Homo sapiens: one gene and its partner. The protein of the gene in region 1 interacts with the protein of each later gene in a pairwise test. Each region holds a gene or a part of one and is shown on either strand. Other genes may lie near its edges.

Region 1 (4,049 bases):
TTCAATTGCTGGTTGGCTAGATGATATATTAATGGCTGGCTGGCTGAATGGATGGATGGATGGATGGATAGATGGACAGAAGATAGATGGTAGATTGAACAATTAGATGTATGTATGTATGGACTAATGTTGTAGGTAAAGTTACTCAGGCAGTAGCCCTAGGTAGACCTTGAACGGGCTTTACCACAAGAAAGAAGGAAGGAAGGAAGGAAGGAAGGAAGGAAGGAAGGAAGGAAGGAAGGAAGGGAATTTTACACACAAGAAATTTCTTGTATCTCTTGTATTTTAGGCTTTGCTGATGGTTTATTAAATAATTTCAAATAGTTGTTCATTTAAAACAAAGGTAAAGTAGCATTCCAATTCTGTAGATCCCAATGTCATCATTTGAAAGTATTTTACCATTGCATATGCCACCATCAAATATCACAATTAAACACAATAGGCAATCACTGAATTGCAGATGCCACATTTTAAACATTTATTAATAAAACTTCTGGCCCAATGCTGGGTTGAAAGTCAGGAGTTGTGGTCCTAGAGACCTAGGGAAAGATAGGCTGCTATATTTTTCCATCCTTGGAGTGAAGACACCACACTGGTCATGGCAAGCATCAGCAATCAGCAATCAGCATGGGTTGGGGTGGACATAGATTTTAATGTGATGAGAGGATCCTTCCAGGTGAAATTACCCACCAGAGGATTAGAACACTTTGGTTCCTCTTCCTATAGATAGGTGTATTGTTCACTTTCCACGTCCTCCAGAAAGCAAAGGAAATCAACATTCTATAACCATCAATCACATCACTTCCATTCATAGTATCCAACATTCACTAACAGCTACATTTTGAGCGTCTACTATGTGTATGGAAGAGATACAGTCCTTGTCCTAAAATGAACTCAATGAAAGGGAAAAATGCCATATATACTCATCCTCCCTCTCCCCATTTTAATGCTTTATAAGAGAGAGGAATGTTTCTTCTAAAGATGAAGCTGTAAGTAGCAAATGTCTATTTATAAATCATCATTTAAAATGGCTATCTCATGTAAATTCCCCCAAAATCACTCCTCACTGGGCTTGGAGTGAATGATAATTTTCCACAACAATAAATAGATTGTGGACAGCCAAATTTTACCCTGATATTTGTATATGTTAAGTATGAAACCTGTATTACAAACATTTTAGTAAAGGAAGCATTCTGAAGTAGGTGGCAATGCAATAGCAGTCTTAGAAATAATAATTGCCAGGGCCTATTTTCCAGTTTCTTCAGTTAATAAAAAAAGTATTTATGGAGTTAGAAGAAAAATAACAAAGAGCTAGACGTATGTGATGATCATTACAAGGAATCTCGCTTCCCCCTTCCCAGCAACAAGGAAAAATGATTCATCAGGCATCACGAAAGAATGGGGAAAAACTAAAAAGGAAGATGTAAACAAATGAGGACAAGTTTTTCTTCTTTAGAATAAGAATAATATCTCAACCAAAAAGATTCCAAGGGGAATTGCTGTAGAAATTTATCAAACTGAGCTGTGTCAGTGGCAAATTAGGTGCATATTGTTCTTTTACAACCATAGATCCAGTTGCAGAGTCCTGGCATTGCTGGGCTTCACCAATTGCAGTGTCAGGAACTTGCTGCTTGGTGGACATGATAAGCAGCTCAAAGGCTATCTAACAGTAATATATCACTTTGTCACATTTCATAGTGTTTGCTGTAATAAATTGATTCACTACCTGTGCATTGCTTTTACTAAGAATAATAAAACTTAACTATCTTTCTGGATCATTCTGATTTGATGTTCTGCTAAAAACATGAGTTCTTTTTCCTGAAAACTAAAATCAAGTGTTAATTACTTCTGCTATTCCTGCAATGTCAGGGGGTTCAGGAAGAGGATGAAAAAACTGATTAAAATTCCTGGAACGAGCTCCTAGAAGCCTTGAGAGTGAATATCTCTCATATACCTCATAAATATAGAGAGAAGAGGGGCAAAAGAGGGGAGGAAAGAAGTATCAGGTGTGGCCCTCAGAGCTAGGGGATGTTGAGGAACGGGGTTTGCTCTGTTCTAAGATAAAGTAATGGTGCCAAAAGCAGGAAGAGCATTTCTGTCCCCCTTCAAACAAAATAGAGCTGACTGCCGGGCGTGGTGGCTCACGCCTGTAATCCCAGCACTTTGGAAGGCTGAGACGGGCGGATCACCTGAGGTCAGGAGTTCGAGGCCAGGCTGGCCAATATGGTGAAACCCCATCTCTACTAAAAATATAAAAATTAGCCGGGCGTGGTGGCGCATGCCTGTAGTCCCAGCTACTCGGGAGGCTGAGGCAACAGAATTGCTTGAACCCGGGAGGTGGAGGTTGCAGTGAGCAGAGTTCGCACCAATGCACTCCAGCCTTGGCAACGGAGTGAGACTCCGTCTCAAAATAAATAAATAAATAAATAGAGCTAAAGAGGCTGGGTGTGGTGGCTCGCGCCTGTAATCCCAGCACTTTGGGAGGCTGAGGTGGGCAGATCACAAGGTCAGGAGATCAAGACCACCCTGGCTGACATGATGAAACTATTAAAAATACAAAAAAATTAGCCGGGTGTGGTGGCGGGCGCCTGTAGTCCCAGCTACTCGGGAGGCCGAGGCAGGAGAATGGTGTGAACCCGGGAGGCGGAGCTTGCAGTGAGCCAAGATCTTGCCACTGCACTCCAGCCTGGGTGACAGAGCAAGACTCTGTCTCAAAAAAAAAAAAAAAAAAAAAAATAGAGCTAAAGAGCCAAGACCCAAGAATAGCCAGAAAGACAATAAAAGACAGACAAATATGATTTTCAAACAGTACAGAATCAATTATCGGGGAATTGAGACCATCCTCAGAATTGCTCTGGATGATTCTGGGGGTAAATAGGGTTACTGGAATGATTTGAGTGGGCACTGTAGCACAGTGAGATTGATGGACTTTGAAATCAAACCTACCTGGTTTTAAATCCTGTTACTATTACTTTCTAACCATGTGACTGTAGGCAAGTTGCTTTACATGTGCCATATAATAGCAATGATAATGCTAATGATAATATTAAGTATTTATTACATGGTAGAAATCAGACTAGATGTTTTGTATGCATCATCTCACTTAATTCTTACTGCAATATTATGCATATTTTATTATCACTGTTTTTCAAATCCATCGTTTTAACCACTCAGCCACGACTACGTGCCTCATCTCTGTTTTTCAGATGAAGGAATTGACACTCAAATACGTAGAGTAACTTGTCTTTCAGAATGAAACAAGACTGGTGAAAGGAGTTGACCTAGAACTCTATTTACTCTCCCCAGGCTTTACTCAACACACTTACATTAGATTTTTATCAGGTATGTATATTTAAGAACAGCAAAGAAAAACATTTGTTATATTCGCTATGACATTACTCATTTTATTTACACCTCTATTTTTAAGACTATTCATTTAATTAAGACTTTATAAGAATGTGGTTTCAGGATATAAAAGTGTTGACTGAGCCACATCCGCTTGTGTGAAAAACAAGATCTGTGGAAATCCAAATGCATTTTTATTTACTATTGACCTTATGGGAATATAAGTATAACTAGAAACAAACCAAGCAAATTTACTAATGACTCTACTCAGCTGGGAGCATTAGCTAGGGTTCTATGTCCTAAGTCTTTGACCTGGCTTTGTTACTATAAGATTACAATCTCCTTTTAGGCAAGGACCATCCATGTTATTTATGTTTGTCTCATCCACAATACATACTATAGCTCCTATCACAGAATGGATGGTCAATAAAACAATAAAATATTCTTACTTATCTGGGCTTTGGTTTCTGGAGGGTTGGATTTGGATCATTGTTAAGGTCCCTTCCTAAGACCCAGTTGTGATCTTAGATACAACTAAGGTCTAACATTATAACAGTCTATTTATATACTGGATTCAACATCAATTCTAGTATATACATGTAAATCTGAAATTGTGCTGTGTCCATGACTGTCCTTGTAAACTACAAAGTTCCAGGTTATATAAAATTAGCACTTTATAACTGCTTTTTATGGTCATGCTAGTA
Region 2 (4,055 bases), on another chromosome or scaffold:
TCCGGGGCAGGGGAAGAAAATACGTGAAGGAGCATCAGTGATACATAAGGATCAGAAACCAACAATTCTAAAGTCAGGAAAGTGATGCCTATTTGGGTGGAGTACCAAGCAGGGGAAATAAATGCCTTTCTTGTATATTATCTGCACCAAACAAAACAGATTTACAAGCATCTCATTAAACCCAAGGGAAGGTGTTCCTGAAATGTTTTCAGGAATGGTAAATTGGTAAATTTAAATTCATTCTATAGTTATTCATTTAAGTTTAATATGATTTTTTTTTTTTATTTCGTGCTCTAGGGAATTAAGGGACTTCTGTAGAGTCACTGGGAGCATATATCCACTGTGTTATTTTCCTCATAAGATTTGAACCTCCTTGATCACAGATTGATTTCCATGAAGGTTTTCATAAATCTAACTAACTCCTATTTGAAAGAGATGACTGCATTTATGCTTGGTGGTCTTCATGTTACAATGAACATGTCTTTAGTTTCTTATGATTTGTATATGCCACTTGTTTACAAGATAGCCTAGGGTTTTCCATCTATTTTTTTATCCAGAGGACCTCAGCTTACATCTCTCTATTAACATCTATGCCTAATGAGAGAAGGTTGCTTCCCTGTGACTTATACAAAATCAGTGACCAGCTGTGGCATTAATGGAAGAGGGGCCAGAATGCATCTCGGTAATATATCAGTGTTCTTTTTCTTGTAACTTAGTTTTTAAATTTCTCGCCCATGTATACCTTTCGAGGATCTCCAAAAGCCCATGTATATACTCCTTCCAAGTTTCTCTCACTGGCCATAGACCATTAACGCATCAAGAATGGAAAATGAAGGTAGCCATAGGCCAAAAAATACCTACTCCCTGAGTGCTCTGCATTCTGATCCAGGGATAGCAATGATCTCAATCAAAAGCAAATTCCTCGCAACTTCTCTAAGATCTCCTCTCCCTTCCTGTACAATATAGGACTATTCAGCTCTTAACTTGATGGAGAAGAAAAAATGAGGGCTTTGGTGATGAGTTGAATCCTCACTACAGTTTGTTAACTGTGTGAACCTTGATCATATCACCACCTCTGCATTTGTTTCTGTATCTATAAAACATGCATGATAACCCATGTAGAGCCATTGCAAGGATTAAAAACATTATAAGTAGGTCGAGTGCAGTGGCTCATGCCTGTAATCCCAGCATTTAGGGAGGCTGAGGCAGGAGGATTACTTGAAGCCAGGAGTTCAAGACCAGCCTGGACAACATAGTGAGACTCCATCTCTACAAAAAAAGTTAAAAAAATCAGATGGGGCTGGGCGCGGTAGCTCACGCCTGTAATCCCAGCACTTTGGGAGGTCAAGGCGGACGGATCACGAGGTCAAGAGATTGAGACCATTCTGGCCAAAATGGTGAAACCCTGTCTCTACTAAAAGTACAAAAATTAGCTGGGCGTGGTGGCGCTTGCTACCTGTAATCCCGGCTACTTGGGAGGCTGAGGCAAGAGAATTGCTTGAACCTGGGAGGCGGAGGTTGCAGTGAGCCGAAATCACACCACTGCACTCCAGCCTGACGACACAGCGAGACTCCATCTCAAAACAAAAACAAAAACAAATTCAGATGGATGTGGTGGTGTGTGCCTGTAGCCCTACCTACTCACGAGGCTGAGGCAGTAGGGTTGCTTGAGCTCAGGAGTTCAAGGTTTTAGTAAGCTATGATGGCACCACTGTATTACAGCCTTGGTGGCAGAACAAGACCCTGTCTAAAAAAAAAAAAACAGTATAAGTAAAATGCACTGTGCCTGGCTCATTGTAAGCACTTTGTAAATGATAGTTTTTATTAACATGCATTCATCAGTAAAAAGAGATTGTATAGGATTTCCAGAATGTTTTTTTTCCATTTTTATTCAGTGATTCAGGTGAAACCTGGGCTTTTGAGTCAGTTTGTATTCAAATCTCTGCTCTATCGTTTACTTGCTGTGTAACATTGGGCAAATGAACCTTTCTGTGCCTCAGTTACATCATCTGCAAAATAAGGAATATAACCTATCTTATAATGTTGTTTTCAATTCTAAAAGAATTATTTTTAGTACCTACTCTCTGCCAAGCATTAAGGTGCTAACAGTGTCTGCGTCTGAGGATTAAATGTAGAACTATATGAAGTACTCCCAACAATGTCCAGGCTTATGTTAAAAACTTAATAGATGGCTCAGACTTGATCTGTTTCTTAGAATGAGAGAATTAGTTATTTCTGGCTTTTATATAAAATGTTTAAATGTCTGTAATTTAGTATCTTGTTGCGTCTCTAATATTCCCAAGAGGCTCAAGGAGAGGAACTGTACAGCTATTTTCTGAATATACCTAGGCCCACTCTGATCCTCTGCTATTATTTTTCCAGTGTCACTGCAAAGATAAAAGCCATTGAAGCAAAACTGAAAATGATGGCGGAAAATCCTGATGCAGAGTATCCAGCAGCGCCTGTTTATTCCTACTTTAAGCCACCAGATAAAAAAAGGACTACTCCATATTCTAGAACAGCATGGAAATCTCGAAGATGATGGTTGTGAATTACTGTAGCAGCAAAAGCAAATTGGTCTCCACACCTAAAATCGTCTGCCTGTGTACTTTGTAGATGTGAATGGTACTATTCAACGGAGCACAATCACATGTTAGCATTTGGTAACATAATGTTTTTGGATGTTCTTATGGATGTTTCTTCCCTAAACTATGTATGGAATTGAGCATCATCCAGAATAAATAGCGTTGTATCCCAAATTGTGATTTGAACCCTGGGATGCTCTAATTGGCTGGTTGGTTTGGATTTGTAACTCCAGAAACATTCTATAGTGTGCCAGAGCAAAAGGCAAATACACAAAATATTATTTAAATCAGGAAACTAAAAATATTAACATCTATTAAAAAATTGAGCATTTTTCTACGCTCGTGTGTCTTTTACAACATAAAGAAAAAGTAAAAGGCAGGGAGGGAAGTGAGAGACAGATTTTAAATCATGTTCAGAACTGTTGTTCCAGAATTTACTACGGCAATCCCTCCAACTGGACTGAAAAAGAGAAAGTTCTTGGCAAAAAGGAGCTGATTCTTTGAACAAATGTTGTAGTAATCTGTTTAAGAATTATGCTTATTGTTTCAAAATCCCAACTAGGAAAACATGGTGTATATCTTAAAATTGTTTGTGTTGACAAAACTAGAATCAAATTTAACATTTTATACCACAACACAAGTTCTATTTGGAAATTGAACTTTTATTCTATAGCAACCATTTTTTTCAAATCTAAATAACCATGCCTTCTATAATAACAAATGTTGCTATTATCATGGGACTTTTAAAATTACATTTATTGCATGGGATTGTTTTTATAGCATGAGAATGTTCTGTTTGGAATTATATCATGGTCAGTCTAAATAGAAAAAGCAAAATTTCTTTGAAAACCTAAACATTGCTATATTGGTCACTATCAAACATACAATTTTCTAATAATTGTGTAGCGGTCTAAGTGGAAGAGATTGCATTATCTTGTGCAGGACGAGGAGAGGACATGCAGTGGGCACAGAAAGTCAATGGAACAGATGCCACTGTGGCACCAAGACTGTAATGACTCTGTGTGGTAGGTAGTTTTAAAGGACTGCATGCCTTGGAAATGATTCTTCACTTGGAGAACATACTTGCCTCTAGATATGTTTGTCACTCTAAGCATCCTGAATATAACAATAGAGAAAGATAAGTCAACCAACAGATTTAGGGATGTGTTTCTTCAGCACATTTTGGTCATTTTGATGCCAAGTTTGACATACTGTTTAATTGGGCAGCACCTTTGCTCCTTTACCAGGTATGTATCACTTTGTTACTCCAGGTGCCATTCTTGGTGATGACAGAATGTTTATCACTATCGTTGTTAGCAAGAGGAAGCTTTCAATATAGGAACTTAACATCTTCCCATGAGTATAAATGAATTTAAGACATTTGAATCAAAACTTCAGTAGAGGGAGGTTTTAGAATTCATAAAACTGGTTTAAGGAAATTCTTTTTACTTTTCCCAAGGTTAATCTTTT

The links. Proteins that work in one complex are often made in the same cells at the same time.
Region 2: the proteins of CLTRN (region 1) and RBM18 interact in a two-hybrid assay, tested with the Homo sapiens proteins (one large-scale study listed by BioGRID and IntAct).

What each region holds. Positions count from the first base shown.
Region 1 is NC_000023.11:15,630,171-15,634,219, forward strand, and holds part of CLTRN (collectrin precursor), read right to left. Parts: intron 1-4,049. UniProt on the Homo sapiens protein: Plays an important role in amino acid transport by acting as binding partner of amino acid transporters SLC6A18 and SLC6A19, regulating their trafficking on the cell surface and their amino acid transporter activity.
Region 2 is NC_000009.12:122,240,371-122,244,425, reverse strand, and holds part of RBM18 (probable RNA-binding protein 18), read left to right. Parts: intron 1-557; exon of another isoform or gene 558-682; intron 683-2,382; coding exon 2,383-2,542; 3' UTR 2,543-4,055.